Regions from separate parts of the Homo sapiens genome. Here region 2 is linked to region 1. Evidence: fine-mapped expression QTL. Tissue or cell type: skeletal muscle. Region 1 holds a variant in brackets; the other region holds the start of a gene. All regions are shown on one strand. Distances are from middle to middle.

Evidence for each region. PIP is the estimated chance that this variant, and not a neighbour inherited with it, causes the effect.
Region 2: RWDD4 starts here. The variant in region 1 is fine-mapped to the expression of RWDD4 in skeletal muscle (GTEx, PIP 0.98).

Annotation. Positions count from the first base shown.
Region 1 is chr4:183,611,247-183,619,716 of GRCh38, reverse strand. No RefSeq gene overlaps it. Among named protein-coding and RNA genes, the nearest start is that of RWDD4, 44 kb to the left of the region's middle. The variant C/T (reference allele first, on the strand shown) is at 3,527.
Region 2 is chr4:183,654,709-183,663,178 of GRCh38, reverse strand. RWDD4 (RWD domain containing 4) reads left to right here and starts at 3,994. Exons shown (of 8, transcript NM_152682.4): 1 at 3,994-4,250; 2 at 7,218-7,298. The coding sequence starts at 4,227. It overlaps TRAPPC11 (trafficking protein particle complex subunit 11), which reads right to left and starts at 3,886. Exons shown (of 30, transcript NM_021942.6): 1 at 3,732-3,886. RefSeq lists silencers at 3,575-3,864, 4,235-4,444, 4,259-4,479 and enhancers at 3,211-3,998, 3,955-4,084, 3,999-4,787.

The DNA.
Region 1 (8,470 bases):
TACTTAAGCTATGCTTTGTTTATGGTTGTCTGTATACTTTGTGGAAAGACAAACAGGACAGTCTGACCCTGAAGATATGGGTTGCCTGGCAACAATCTAAATGGGACCAGAACCTCCCCCCTCCCCCTGCAGGAGGGGCTGTGCCCAAATGGAACTTCTCACAAGGTCAACAGGTGCTGGCAACAGGCTCTCCAGACAGCGAACTGCCTGAACAGCTGTCACCTAAGCCCAGCCTGCCCGATGCCCAAGCAGACATTTTGTTCCCCCTGGCAAGGCCACTCGGGTTTGCCCTTTAAAAAGAGAACCCAAATGAGTGGGGGCGGGGCCTTGAGGCCTTTCCTTGCAGTCCGGGGCTGTCTTAGTCCAACTAGCCGGACCCAAGCGTCCCTCCGCAGAGGTCTGAGGGGTGGAGACTGATCTTGCGGCATCTCTGCGTGTGAGTGCCAGCCTGCACCAAAAGACGCACTGTTGTCTGCCCAAACCCTTTCAGTGACGCGTTTTGTAAAAATCATCTATGTTTTCCCCCAAATAGCTGTCATCAGTGAAAAGCATCAAAGAAAATCCAATATATGACCACAGAAGAGATAATGCAAAAACTAAAACTGTTCCAAAATAATGCAATAAATATGTTTTCTAACACATGCAAATCAATTTTCTAATAAGATTTGTATGTATGTGTTAGCAAACCTTTATTAGGAACTAAGAGTTAATTCAATGTTAGTTAAACAGTGTGTAGGAAATACTAAGTCAAACTTCTGGAAGTGATTGCGAAAGAAAATCAATGTTTCTTTGAAAACAGATAGTTACAGAGACAGTGATGGTTCATTATGTCTCAACTTGGCTTGGCTGTGGGGCCCAGCTGCTTGGTTAAACACTAACTTGGATGTTGCTGTGAAGGTATTGTGTAGATGTGATTGATACGTACAATCAGCTGACTCTGAGTAAAGTAGATTATCCTCTTGAATGTGGGTGAGCTTCATGCAATCAGCTGAAGGCTTTCAGAGCGGAGACTGAGCCTTTCCCGAGAAAAAAGGAATTCTGCCTCGAGCCTGCAGCACAGAAACTCTGAGTGAGTTTCCGGAGGGCTTGGCCTGCTTTGCAGATTTCGGACTCGAGACGGTAACATCAACTCCTGCCTGAATTTCCAACCTGTGGGCCTGTCCTAGAGATTTCAGACTTGCCGGCCTCCTCAATTACTTGAGCAATTCTTTAAAATCTCTCTCGCTGTCTCTTTGTATGTGTATGTATACATACACACATACATATATATCTCTTATTGGTTCTGTTTCTCCAGAGAACCCTGACTGATACGATTATTTATTCTATTAAGCATTTTACAGAAGTTATTTGAGCAAGAAATGTTTAACAGCTGAGTTTTTCTTTTTCTTTTTTTTCTTTTTTTTTTTTTGAGATGGAGCCTCGCTGTGTCACCAGGCTGGTGTGCAGTGGTGCGATCTCGGCTCACCGGAACCTCCGCCTCCCGGGTTCAAGTGATTCTCCTGCCTCAGCCTCCCGAGTAGGTGGGACTACAGGCGCCCGCCACCACGCCGGGCTAATTTTTTGTATTTTTTAGTAGAGACGGGGTTTCACCGTGTTAGTCAGGATGGTCTGGATCTCCTGATCTTGTGATCTAACCACCTCTGCCTCCCAAAGTGCTGGGATTACAGGCGTGAGCCACTGTGCCCGGCCTCTATATTTACTCTTACTGTAAATGTCATGAGTCAAAGAAATTCCTCAACTGCACTTGGTCACTTGTTTCAATGTCAAAATATATTTAATGTAATTTTGTCTGAAAGTCTAATTTGACTTTATTTTACTGTCATCTGAACATATTCTCTCTTATTTTCCACTCAATGTGAAGATTAAAGTCTCAATCTCTGTGGACTATACAGTAAAGGAATTAAGCCATATGTAATACTACCTTTTCCAGCCAACAGTAATTATCTTAATCAAATTTAGGATAATATGATATTTGGATGATTTCACATTTAGTTCTAAGTAGTAGTATTTAAGAAAAAAACAGGCTGGGCCCAGTGGCTCATGCCTGTAATCCCAGCACTTTGGGAGGCCAAGGTGAGTGGATCATTTGAGCTCAGGAGTTCGAGACCAACCTAGGCAACATGGTGAAACCCCGTCTCTACAAAAGACACAAAAATTATCCCGGTGTGGTAGTGCAGCCCTGTGGTCCCAGCTGCTCAGGAGGCTGAGGCAGGAGGATAGCTTGAGCCTAGGGTGGTCAAGGCTGCTTTGAGCCAAGATCAGGCCACTCTGTACTCCAGCCTGGGTGACAGAGCCAGACTGACCTTGAAAAAAAAGAAAGAGGAAGGAAAGAAAGAAAGAAGAAAGGAAGGAAGGAAGGGGAGGGAAGGGGAGGGAAGGAAGGGAAGGAAGGAAGGAGACAGAAAGAGAGAGAGGAAGGAAGGAAGGAAAAGAAAGAAAAAGAGAAGAAGGAAGGAACAAAAAGAAAGAGAAAGAAAAGAAAGGAAGGAAAGGAGGGAGGGAGGAAGGGAGGGAAAAGAAAGAGGAAGGAGGGAGGGGAAAAAAAGAAAGAAAAATAAAAGAAAAAAAGTAGGGCTTAGTGGCAGTCCCTGTATTGTTTTCACCTGGCAGGCCGCGTAGTGTGAGGAGAGTGGAGGGGTCTGGCCAGGAGGGGAGACTGAACACACACAAGAGGGATTAGTCCAATAGTGAAACATATTGAAAGTGGTGGGAGTCAGGCTTTTCATTGTTGGAAATGAGCTGCAGGGTGAATGATAAGACAACTAATCTGAACCTTATGGTGTTGGATTGGAATTAAAGGCATTGGTGCAAACTCATGGTTTTGAATATATAGATAAGGGTCGGGTGCAGTGGCTCACACCTGCCTTTAATCCCAACATTTTGGGAGGCCAAGGTCGGAGGATCACTTAAGGCCAGGAGTTTGAGACCAGCCTGGGCAACACAGTGAGGTCCCTTCTTTACAAAAAAATTAAGAATTAGCCAGGTGTGGTGGTGCACACCTGTAGTTCCAGCTACTTGGGAGGCTAAGGTGGGAGGATCGCTTGAGCCCAGGAGGTTGAGGCTGCAGTAAGCCAAGATCGTGCCACTGCATTCCAGCCTGGGTGACAGAATGACACCATGTCTCAAAAAAATTATATAGATAAATAAAGATATAATATATTATACAAATATGTGTCTATATTATGTATAATATGTAGATTTAAATGCAGATGAGTGTGTATAATCCTGGATTATGGGGGGGAGGTCCCCAATGTGGTCACAAGGGCGCTTACACAAAGCAGCCATGAGGAGCAGAATCAGAGAGAGGATAAACGGATGAAAGCAGAGGTCAGAGAGGAGGGAAGGTGCTATGCTGATGGCTTGAAGATAGAGGAGGGGGCCATAGCCCAGGAATGCAGGCGTCCTCCAGAAGCTAGAAGGCAAGGGAACGGCTTCTTCCCTGGTGCCTTTAAGAGGAACACAGGCCTGCCAGTGCCTTGATTTTAACCTAGTGACACCGATGGGGAACGTCTGGCCTCCAGAGTTA[C/T]AAAATAATACATTTAAGTTGTTTTAACCCGCTAAGGTTATGGTAGTTTGTTATAGCAGCACTAATACAGTATGACACACAATAGGACACTAATGCAAGTGGCAACAAGTAAATGGAGAAAAAAATGATGCAGTTAGAAAAATCACTGTTTGGTCATTAATAAGGCAATAATTAAATCATCCAAAAATATCAATGGAAGCTAAAATCAGTGAGTCAATGTTTGATAAGAAATGGAATATTGAGGCTGGGCACGGTGGTTCACGCCTGTCATCCTAGCACTTTGGGAGGCCGAGGTGGGCGGTTCACCTGAGGTCAGGAGTTCCAGACCAGCCTGGCCAACATGACGAAACCCAGTCTCTACTAAAAATACAAAAATTAGCCGGGCGTGGTGGCGGGCACCTGTAATCCCAGCTACTCGGGAGGCTGAGGAAGGAAGATTGCTTGAACCTGGAAGGTGGAGGTTGCAGTGAACTGAGATCACGCCACTGTACTCCAGCCTGGGCAAGTGAGTAAGACTATCAGAAAGAAAGAGAGAGAGAGAGAAAGAGAGAGAGAGAGAGAGAAAGAGAGAGAGAGGGGGAGGGAGGGAAAGGAAAGAAAAGAAAGAAGAAACAAAGAAAGAAATGGGATATTTAAATAGTCCCACGTTTCCTTACTGATTCCAAAACATTAGTCATGCACAGTGGAGAAATCTGACAAATACCACCTTAATCAAGTTGATCTCAGCAGAAACGGACAAATCAGAATCATTTGCCACCTGATAGAAGGCAGCGAGAAGACAGCCTCTAGATTGAAAGTGAGTAGAGACATGACCAGTGAAAGCAGCGGGAGACCCTGTCCTGGATCCTTTGACTATAAAGGATACGACTGGTGCAATTGGAGAAACTGGGGTGGAATCTGTAGAGTAGGTGGTAGGAAGATTTCATTGTTAATTTCCTGATTTTGCTGGTGGTATGTTTGCTTGTGTAGGAGAATCTCCTTGTTTGTAGGAATTACAAACTAAAGAATTCAGAATGATGGGGCTTTGTGTCAGCATTACTCTCACATGGTTCAGGGAAAAAAAGTCCTACTATTCTTGAAAATTTCAGTATGTTCGTAATTGTTTGAAAATCAACAACAACAAAAGAGGTATAGGCTCCAGGGAAGATTTTGTCTCCTTGCCTTTCCTGGCTTTTGCATTTCTTTACTCAAGGCCCCTTCCTCAATCTTCAAAGCATCTTCGCCTCTCTCTGACCTCTGTGCCCATCCTTACATCTTCTCTCTGACCCTAACTCCACTGCCTCCTTCTTGTAAGTACACTTGTGATTACTTTGGGTTCATTAGGATTATCCCGGGTGCACATTGCTTATTTTTTTAAACAATATATCTTAAGGGTCTTTCCCTGTCAGATCTTTTAAACATAGTTTTCCTTACTATAAATAAACTGTAATTTATCCATTTCTCTATAAATTGTTTCTAATTATTAGCCATTGCAAACCATGTTATGTGGTATATTCCTGCACTTGTATTCTTCTGCATGTGTCAATATTTCTGTTAAGTCAAAGAACAATTGCTGTACGAAGACATGGGACATTTTGTTAGATGGTGACAAATTGTCATCCCAGAAGACTGTACTTTTAGACTCACTCTGGGTGCACTGCCGAGGAGTTAGCTCTGGAGCAACTAAGGAAAAAAAAAAAAACAGAAACAACTATACCTTTAGATTCCTACCAACAGGCAGAGACCATTCACCCATACATTTACTGAAACAGGATAGTATCAGCTTTCAAATGAGTAAAATATGGTATGTTGTCATCATTCTTTTTGCACTAATCTACTAGACTACTAGAGAATTTGAGCATCTTTTTATGTGCATAAGGGCCATGTGTGTTTCTCTGACTATTAGTATCCTTTACACACATCTCTACTTGATGTTTATGTTTTCCTATTTTTATATGCAACGTGGCAGCGAGACATGACAATCGGCAGTCAGCCTTTTAACTAAGGTCTGTGTTCATTTCTGTTGACCCTGAGCTTGGAGTTTCTCTGGGGCTCTGTTTGGGAGAATGGCACGCCTCTGACAATGCCTGTGTTTAGTGGTGGAACTCTCTGCCTTAGTTTCTTCATAAATTGAGGCCATTTGTTTTCAATATTCCAGAAATCTGTACCACCACCCCCACCAAATTCTGCTTTAATGGTGACAGCCTTTCTTCTTTCCCAGCTCTGTGATGGAGAATGGATTGATTCTCTTAAGAACATATGTTGTGTATCCTTTTCATTAGATCTTGGGAGCTAGGGAGGGAGGTAAAGACAAGCACTGACTGTGTCACCCTCAAACAGGAGGCTCACTGCATTTTCCCCTGGTCTCTTGGGTCATTTTCCAGGACAAGTTTTCAAGTACTGTAGTAAAGGAACGGATTGTCACCCTCAAAAGAAAAGTAGCTCCAATACCAAGAAGAGCTCATGGCAATTTGTGCATTTTACAGAAAAGAGGGGAGGTGAAAGTCATTTATTCCTGAAGATTAGAGCTGCTATATACTTACTTGATAAGTGATAATAGACTAAACAATTATTAAAGAAGTATCTTCCCAGCTGCATTTAATTAAATGTGAGCATCCCTAGGCTGCTGATAGAGCATCCGATGTTTCAGTTTCCAAATGGTGGGGAACTTAACATGAGGATTAGCATACCCAAAATCAAAACTAAGGCATATAACTGAGCATACAGGAGCTCAGGAAATAACGTGATGATTAGAATTCACATTATAGTCTATATCTAGAGACTCAGAAAGAGAATCCATTTGAATATACACGAAGTCCTCATTTAATGTCATAGATAGGTTCTTGGAAACTGTAACTTTAAGCAAAACAATGTATAATGAAACCGATGTTTGTCCCTCATCGATATTATAACCAATGTTATTCAAGGACCTGCTGTACACGTTGCTTAAAGTCACAGTTTCAAAGACTCTACCTATGATGTCAAGTGAGGACTTACTGTATAAATGTACTAATTTTTTTCAGAAAGGAGGTTTTGGTGATAACCTCTGAAGGTAATTAGAAACGATGGCTTCCCCTAGAAATGTCTTTCAAAGAGGAGTTAGGAAACCAGAAGGAGCTGTGATGCTGACGTCCCTGAGAGCTGAGTGCAAGTCGGCGATGCTTGGTAGTCATCAGCTCAAGGACAGCTCAAGGGGCAGAGTGTGTCTGAGCAGGGGACGGAGAGATATGAGACAATGACAGCATGTGTGAAAACGACCCCTGTACTTGGTAGGACCGGCCTACATGGGAAGAGACAAGATACAGCAGAGCCCATGCACCCGGGGTGGGGGACAGGGAAGCAAAGCCGCCATGCGACCAGTGAAGGGGGAAAGCCGGCGTCACGGGGCAGCCAGAAGCATGTGTGCAAGGATGCGCTGGAGGGAACAGAGCCGACAGGACGTGTAGAGATTTATATTCAGAGATTTGTGCCAGGGAATTGGCTCACACAGTCCTGTTGGAGGCTCACACAGTGCTGTTGGTGAGCCCACAGTCCGCAGGGTAGGCTGGCAGGCTGGAGACCCAGGAAAGCACTGATGCTGCAGATCAAATCCCAAGACAGTCTGCTGGCAGAATTCCTCCTTCTTCAGGGGAACCTCAGCCAGTTTTCTCATAAAGCCTTCAACTGCTTGTGTGAGGCCCACCCACATTACAGAGGACCATCTACTTTACTCAAAGTCTAGTGACTTAAATGTTCATTTCATCTTTAAAATACCTTTGCACAGCCTGGGAAACATGAGGAAACCCCCTCTACAAAAAATACAAAAACTAGCCGGGCACGGTGATGCTCACCTGTAGTCCCAGCTACTTGGGAGGCCGTGGTGGGAGGATCACTTAAGCCCAGGAGGCAGAGGTTGCAGTGAACCATGTCTGCACCACCACACCTCAGCTTGGGTGACAGAGTGAGACCCTGTCTCAAAAAACAAAAAAGGAAATAAAATAAAAAAACAAACCTTTGCAGCAACAAAGATGTTTGAGGCTGAGTGTGGGGCTCATGCCTGTAATTATAGCACTTTGTGAGGCCAACGAGGGCAGATCACTTGAGGCCAGGAGTTTGAGACCAGCCTGGCCAACATGGTGAAACCCCGTCTCTACTGAAAATACAAAAATTAGCTGGGTGTGGTGGCGGGCGCCTGTAGTCCCAGCTACTAGGGAGGCTGAGGCAGGGGAATCGCTTGAACCCAGTTAGGGGAAGTTGCAGTGAGCTGAGATCGTGCCATTGCACTTCAGCCTGGGTGACAGAGTGAGACTCTGACTCAAAAACAAACAAACACAAACAAACAACAGGGGTGCTTAATCAAACACCTTTGTTGCTGCAAAGGATTGTGTTTGTTTGTTTGTTTGTTTTTAGGCTGGTGTTTGATCAAATATGTGGGTGCCATGACCTACCCAAGTTGACAGCTAAAATTAACCCTCTTCTCCACCCTTTTTCCTGGGTTCCTTTTCAATTGTTCAAGAGGCCTGGGATGAGGCAGATGGCGGAAATTCCCGCAATTCTGCAGATAGTGAAGAAATGCTGTTTGGTTTCTGTTGTTATTGCCTGGGAACTAATCACCCTGCGGGAAAATTAACGTCGTTATTCCATGCCACACCACATGCACATGCCCACTAAGTACATGGACACACCTACACACAGATATCTTCCCAAGTCCTGACAAGTCCCTCCTGTCACGACTGAAGCCCATCACCCTAAGCCTCAGTCCTCAAAGTTCCAGAGGAGAAAGGAGCCATACGTGTGTGTGTGTGTGTGCGTGTGTGTGTGTGTGTGACGGAGTCTCGCTCTATCCCCAGGCTGCAGTGCAGTGGCGTGATCTCAGCTCACTGCAACCTCTGTCTTTCAGGTTAAAGCAGTTCTCATTCCTCAGCCTCCTGAGTAGCTGGGCTTACGGGCGCTCTACCACGCCCAGCTAATTTTTGTATTTTTTTT
Region 2 (8,470 bases), 43 kb before region 1:
AGGAGAATCACTTGAACCCAGGAGGCGGAGGCTCCAGTGAGCCAAGATCACGGCACTCCACTCCAATCTGGGTGACAGAGTGAGACTCTGTCTCAAAAAAAATAAAATAAATAAAATAATCATTACAAAAAGGCAAAAGGCTTTGAGTATCTGCAAACTGTCAAACAAACAGAAGAGAGAAAAAGGGAAAACTTTAATTCCTGAATTAGATCTATTAAAATGTAATAACTATATGACATTTAAGAAAAAATCTTTCATGTTAAAAATGAAGTCAACTTTAAGACAAATCGGCATTTTCAGTAATGTCTCAAAATGCACACAGAACTTTGAAATTAGTAGACCAAGAAAGCAAGAAGGTGATAAAATTAAAATAGATCTACATGATCTATTTCAACTATAAAAGAAAAATATATTGAAAGAAAAATATAAAAGAAAAACAGTTGACTTACATATAATAAACTTCCCCTAATTTCTCTGTAATTGCTAATATTGAATTTCTGAATACCTAGGATATTATTAAAATAGCCTTTAATTTATGTAATTATCTAAATAGTAGCTATGTTGTCTCATTTCCCACAATATAAAATTTACTCTTTAAAGAAAAATCTGTAAGGGAAAAACTAACAATGAATGGAAACCTCTCGGAGGATGTTTCCACTGCGTCCTTTAGCTAAGAATCAGTCCATAATAAATCTAACGTATGCCCTGACTTTATAAGTATATAAAACTATGTTTATCCCGAACAAGACTGTCATTATATTTTTAATATAATCTTACTTGCAAAAGGATGTAACAACATGAGGTTCTTTTTTTTTTTTTTTTTTGAGACGGAGTATCACTCTGTCACCAGGCTGGAGTGCACTGGCCCAATATCAGCTCACTACAACCTCCACCTCCCGGGTTCAAGTGATTCCCCTGCCTCAGCCTCCCTAGTAGCTGGGACTACAGGCATGCACCACCACACCCAGCTAATTTTTTGTATTTTAGTGGACAGGGTTTCACCATGTTGGCCAGGATGGTCTTGATCTCGTGACCTCAGGCGATTGCCAGCCTTGGCCTCCCAAATGAGGTTCTTTTAAAAGATAATCTATACCAGCATATTACAGAGAATTCAGGTAAGGCACAAGTGGCTCATGCCTATAATCCCAGCACTTTTGGAGGACAAGGCCAGAGGATTGTTGAGGCCAGGAGTTCAAGACTGGCCTGGGAAACATAGTGAGATCCTGTCTCTAAAAGAAATAAAAAAGAAAATAGCCGGGCATGGTGGTGCTCACTTGTAGTCCCAGCCACTTGGGAGGCTGAGATGGGAGGATCACTTGAGTCTAGGTGTTTAAAGTTACAGTGAACTATGATTGTGCCACTGCACTCCAGCCTGGGTGACAGAGCAAGATTGTGCCACAAAAAAAAAAAAAAAAAAAAAAGTTATTCCAAACAAAATTATCACTACATTTTAAATATAATCTTATTTGAAAAAGAATGTGTCATGAGGCTCTTTTAAAAGGTAATCTGGCCGGGCGCGGTGGCTCACGCCTGTAATCCCAGCACTTTGGGAGGCCGAGGCGGGCGGATCACAAGGTCAGGAGATCGAGACCATCCTGGCTAACATGGTGAAACCCCGTCTCTACTAAAAACACAAAAAATTAGCCGAGTATGGTGGTGGGCGCCTGTAGTCCCAGCTACTCGGGAGGCTGAGGCAGGAGAATGGCGTGAACCCGGGAGGCGGAGCTTGCAGTGAGCGGAGATCGCGCCACTGCACTCCAGCCTGGGCGACAGAGCGAGGAGACTCCGTCTCAAAAAAAAAAAAAAAAAAAAAAAAAGGTAATCTACACCAGTATACCAGTATATTATGGAGAAGTCTAACACAATCTTTGTGAAAAGTGAGGCACACTTAGGCTAATACCTAATCCCCAAAACATGGAATATTTTCAACTGAAAGGTTAATTTAGGAAAGACTATTAGTCTTCTCATGTTTACATACTGAAAGAACAACAGGTATTCAATAAATGATTTGCAAAGCTTGCCAGAAATGTCTACAACAGATTGTTTTAGAATTGTTTAAATATTTTTAGGACAGGATTAAGTTATGAGGGCAAAGGATTGCATGTTCAGAGAAAGAAACAGTCTAGTTCTGGGTAATGTAGGAATGAAAATTAAAAAGGGGTGACCAGGCTGGGTACAGCGGCTCACGCCTGTAATCCCAGCACTTTGGGAGGCCAAGGCGGGCGATTCACGAGGTCAACGGTTCAAAACCAGCCTGGCCAATAGGGTGAAACCCCGTCTCTACTAAAAATACAAAAATTAGCCGGGCATGGTGATGCGTGCCTATAGTCCCAGCTACTCGGGAGGCTGAGGCAGGAGAATGGCTTGAACCCGGGAGGCGGAGATTTCAGTGAGCCGAGATCGCACCACTGCACTCCAGCCTGGGCAACAGAGCAAGACTCCGTCTCAACAACAACAACAAAAAACAAGTGACCAAAATACAATACGGGCCCCTTTGCTTAATATGAACGAGTCTAGACTAGAGGCCATTTCCTGTAATAACTCCAGAGGCCCAAAAGACATAGCTGTGGTCTTTAAATATGGAGTTGAAATAAGAGGAACTAAAAATGACTGTCATCCAATAGAAATACAAGTCACATAAATAAATTAAAAATTTCTAGCAGTCATATTAAAAAGTAAAACGTGGATGGAATTCATTTTAATATTCAATTTAACGCAGTACAGTATGTCCAAAATATTATCATACTGACAATAATATAAAAGTTATTAATGACATATTTTACCTTTTTTTGTACTGAGTCTTCAAAATCTGGTGTGTATTTCACACTCACAGCACATCTCAATTCAGACTAGCCTATTTCAAATGCCTGATGTAGCTACTGGCTACAGAACTGGACAGCAGAGATCTAAATTATGGGAAATGTGTCCCAAAATTGCTGCACGAAAATTGTATCAGAAAGTCTTGCCACATTCTCCTATGTCACCTGAAATGGTCGTGCTTATTCTGCAGCAAAGGAATTTGAATGAGAACCCCGATAACGCACAGGCGCAGATCGAATGGATTTCAATGACAGGCTGGAAGGAGAAATTTTCAGATATCCAATGGAGCAACCAACGAAACTATACACGAAAGGAGGCGCAGCTATAGAAGGTGAATAATGGATGGGAGATCAAGTAATGCAAGGGAAGTAAACTGGAAACTAGCGTGAAAGATAAGAAAGGTGACCCAATCAAATTGGCAACTAAAAAAACCCCAAAACCTAATGTGGTTACTTTTTTTTTCTTTTAACTAACTGGAAGTTCAGGGTGTTAGGACACAAGGCTGCTAAGAATGGGATTCAGAGATGTTCAACTACAAAACGAACAAAAGAGGAACGACAGTGTGGGGACGAAATGATGTTTCGATGTTAAAGATGAGAAGCAACAATCCAACGTAGGAGAAACACCGTCCCCATGGTCCCAGTATCTGTTCTGGTAGCTCCAGTGAGGAAAGGTAGAGAAATAACCTTGCAGTCCCTAAAGGCAGATATCTTCCTCCTCTTATTCCCCCGTCTTAAACCTGGGAGGCCCTAGAAACGGGTGCGTCTTTCCTCGGGTCTAAAAGAGAAGTGCCAGGATTGCACCCGTCGATGGGATTGCAAAACGCAGGCCCCCAAACCAGCATTGTTAAGAGCTAGCTCTCTTCCTCGGCGGTCCCGCCTGGCCCCGCGGGTCTCCGGGCCCGGACTCACCCAGGCCCCACGCCCCGGGCCCGCTGCAGCTGAGGCCGGTCGCCGCCAGCCGGGAGAAGACGAGGGGAGGCGGGGGGATGTCACAGAACGCCGTGGCCCGTCCCCACCGCCGCAGCCCCACAGCCAGTTCCAACAGGCGAGACTTCCCTGTACCCACCTCCCCCGGCACAGGAAGCACTTTCTGGGCCTGAGTGACCGCGCTCTACACCAATCGCTGTCCCGGAACTTTACGCCGCTCCTCCAAGCGTCAGGGAGACGCTGCACTTCCCAGGCCCCACCAGCCGCGGCTCCGGCTCGTAGCCCACAGCCCACTGCCGGCGGCTGGGCGCTGCCGAGGCTCGGGGCGCGCGCAGTTGGCGTCTGCCAGTGCCAAGACTGTGCCGCCCCCACAGCCGAGGCGCGAAAGGGGGACGCCCGGCCTCTGGGCCGCTGCCTTCGCTTTCTCTTCGTTGTTGCGAACGCCGTCCGCTCAGGAGGCGCCCCGCGACCGGCGCGATGAGTGCCAACGAGGACCAGGAGGTGAGCCCCCCGGCTCAGGGCCCTCTCCCAGCGCGGGCGCGGCGCGCAGCCCCGGGCCCCCGTGAGACCTGGTGCCCGGACAGCCTGCCCGGCACGTGCCCTGTGCCCTCGGAGCCGGCCGGGGTGCCCCGAGTTCACCGGCGTCCCACCCAAGCGCGCGTGAATGGCCAGGAGTCCGCCTCTGCCACTCTTCCCCCCTCATTTTTCATTTTTGCAAATCCGGGAGTCTCCCCTGGTTACTTAATAACAGGGATGAGCGTCCTTGGTGCACGATCCAGTGCTCTTGGCTCTCCTTGAATCCCATGTGTTCAGTGCCTGTTTACTGAGTTAGGCTGATCACCTTTAAATTTTAGTCTGGTCATCTTTAAATCTCTTGGCTAGTAGAGGGCTAATTGAGTTAGTTACATTTCTCATGGAAGAAAATGACACTGGTGGTGCATCTGAGTTTCTGTCCATATTGTTTGGGGAAATCTTTTACCCATCTGTCTGTTTTGAGCATTCATGTACCACCTGAATTTATGGTTTATGCTCAAATATTTCCTTGTGAGATGCCATTTTGACATTGAATCATATAATATTAGAGTTGGGGGGTGGGTGCTACGGGCCATCTGTAGGGGAACCTTCTAACTTTGATAGGTGGGTCGATGATAGCCGCAGGGCTGCACAGTAAGTACGTGGTAGAATCGGGACTAGAAACCAGGTCTTATTGGGTGGTAGATAAGTTCACTGTTAATTTAAAGTATAATGCTTGAAACTTACTACTTTTACATGATAAATGTAATAGAATCTCTGGATTGGAAGTTAACCTTTAAAGGACCCAAAGTCCAACAAGCTAGCTAGTTGATATCTGAATCTCTTCTAAAATATTCTTGCCGGGTGAATTTCTAAGTGAATGCGTTAATAGCTTCTTCTCCCTGCAAAGCAAAGAACATACAGTGTAATGTTTCTCAGAGTTGGACCATAGTCCCCTACCTTAGAACCATTTAGATGGTTGCTAGAAAACAGATGCGTGCACTCCACCCCAGACCTACTGAATCAGAATTTCTGTGGTGGGCCCAGGAATCTCCAGTTTAACAAGAAAATTTCATTCTTCTTTCAGATGACCGATGTTCTGATCTTTGAAGATAGTTTCCTGCCCAGTTTCTCAGACCTTCTCTGAGGAAGTGGTTCCTTTTAGCTTGTCTTCATATATCCATTCTTTGTTAATCTCTTCACTATCCTGGAATCACGTGTTTGTGGACAGATTTTAATTTTTTAAATGTCCTGTTTCAAAATTGTGGCATCTTGCTGTTTTGTCTAGTTAAATTTACTGTCAACTGAAATCTTTTAAGTGCTTTATACAAAGCAATTTGTCTTTCATCTTCAACTTCTACATTTAGGTATCTGAGTATTGATACAAGTTCTACTTACCCTGCTAAATTTCATCATTAGCTTGCTTTTCAAAGACTTTTTGGATTCTTATTCAGCCATCAGCATTATTCACTGTCCCAACAAATTGTCATCCACAAATTTAATAAACTTGCCTCCTATTTTTGTACCTGTCCAAGTCATAAATTAAAATATGGGAAAGGATTAGGGACAGAAGGAGTAGTACTATATCTTGAGTAAGGTTTTTGTTCCAATCTAATCTTAGTTATTCTTGAATCCGGCTTGAATTTCTGTATTTTGTTTTTTTTTGTTTTTTCTGTAAAGGTAGCAAGAGAAACCTGTGGAGCCTGGCTGAAATCTATATAGTCGGTGTTTTATGCCTTTCTTCATTGTGCCAATCAAGTTTCCCTATCTAAGAAGGGTATATCTTGTTTTTCATATACTTACTAGGTCTTAGGGTCTACTCCTTAATGTCCCAGTTCCTCACACACTGTTTCTTCAACAATGTCTTTTTGCTGTTGTTGTTGCTATTTTTGAGACGGAGCCTCGCTCTGTAGCCCAGGCTGGATTGCAGTGGCCCGATCTCGGCTCACTGCAACCTCCGCCTCCTGGGTTCAAGCGATTCTCTTGCCTCAGCCTCCTGAGTAGCTGGGACTACAGGCGCCCATCACCACACCTGGCTAATTTTTGTGTCTTTAGTAGAGATGGGGTTTCACCGTGTTGGCCAGGCTGACCTCGAACTCCTGACCTCAGGTGATCCGCCCGCCTCGGCCTCCCAAAGTGCTGGGATTACAGATGTGAGCCACCGCGCCCAGCCAATAATTTCTATTCTAAAATTTTGACTGTAGATCAAGCCCACTTTCACCATCTTTAGTTTGTAGAATTCATGACATGCATCTTTTTGAAAAACTTAAACGTGTACCCAAGTGCAGTCTTGCTTTACTTCTTTTCTCAGGTATTCATCGGTGATCACAGTGATGAACTTCTCAGTTGTAATACCAAAATGTTCTAAGAACTATGTCCAAGCAAGGATTACTAGTTACATTTTCTCTGACAGTCCTGTCTCATCTTGGGTAGATACTTGTCAGCCTTTTTCTTAAGTTCTTTTTCTTGCCCTTAGGTGTTTTTTAGAGCTTTGTATCACTGTGGGAAGGATTACATATAAAAGAAATGTATGTAAATAATGGGAAAGTATTGTTTTTCATAGTTCTTATCTTTAGGTTTAATGCTCTTTGCACCCAGGTTCGTCTTTAGCCAAGTTCTAAGAGCGCTTGCTCTGGAGTGGCTTTACAGGGAGACTTCCTTGCTTCCCTAGGAAGGAGAAAATAATAGGAGCCTCTTGACAGGGTTGATTTGAGAAGTCAGCGCGATCATACATTGTACAGTGCTTAGTAGTCCCTGACACAGAGTTTGAAAGTAAGTATCATTGGTAGTAATATTGTCATGTGTTGCTGCATGCACCTATGTGGTAAGTATCTAAGGTTATATAAGTTAGTCAAGCTTTTACATAGTTGAGTGGGCTTGAATGAGAAAGTAAAGACCCTCTATTTCTAATTCATTTATACCACTAAACAAAACTCATTCAGTTCTTTATTTCAGATGGAACTAGAAGCATTACGCTCTATTTATGAAGGAGATGAAAGTTTCCGGGAATTAAGTCCAGTTTCTTTTCAATATAGGGTAAGACATGGCATGAATAAGAGCACTTAGAACTTTTCTAGAAAAGACTGAAAGTGGCTAAAAATGCTTATTTTGTTTTTTAAACTTGTTTAAATTTATTATGTCTGTATTTTCTGTAGCATTTAAATGGAAACATCACCCTAACATCAGTCATTTTTAACGTTTGAAAACTTAATTCAGAAGCTTAAAAAACCAAGATAAACTTGTTTTTATTGTACCAGAATCATAAGATACTAGAAATGGAAAAAACCTTAAAAATTATTTAATCTTATCTTTAACATAAAATAGTAACAGTAGGGCTGGGCGCGGTGGCTCTCACCTGTAATCCCAGCACTTTGGGAGGCCAAGGTGGGCGGATCACGAGGTCAGGAGATCGAGACCATCCTGGCCAACATGGTGAAACCCCACTGTCTCTACTAAAAATACAAAAAATTAGCCGGGCATGGTGGCGGGCGCCTGTAGTCCCAGCTACTCGGGAGGCTGAGGCAGGAGAATGGCGTGAACCCGGGAGGCAGAGCTTGCAGTGAGCCGAGATCAAGCCACTGCGACAGAGCGAGACTCTGTCTCAAAAAAAAAATAGTAACAGTATTTTATTTTGTAAATAAGTCATATAAACCTTTTATTCAAATGATTATAAGTAGGCGGGGCACAGTGGCTCACACCTTTAATCCCAGAACTTTGAGAGGCCGAGGCAGGCGGATCACCTCAAGTCTGGAGTTCTAGACCAGCCTGGCCAACAAGGTGAAACCCTGTCTCTACTAAAAATACAAAAATTAGCCACGCATGATGGTGCATGCCTGTAGTCCCAGCTACTTGGGAGGCTGAGGCAGGAGAATCACTTGAACCCAGGAGGCGGAGGTTCCAGTGAGCAGAGATTGTGCCACTGCACTCCAGTCTGGGCGACAGAGCGGGACTCAAAAAAAAAAACAAAAAAAACACACAAATAATTATAAGTAGCGGAATGGGGAAGTTTTTTTTGTAAAAGATTTACAGTTATTATTAACATTGTCACAGTTTAAACTATTAGAAATGATTCTTATGCATGATCGATGGATGACCATCACAGAAAATAAGTTTCTGTTCTCAATTCCCTTTCAAGCTTAACAGTCCTTACACCATCTCCAAGTATGTAATAACCATGGACCTCAAATGTCCAAAGTTAACAGTGGAGC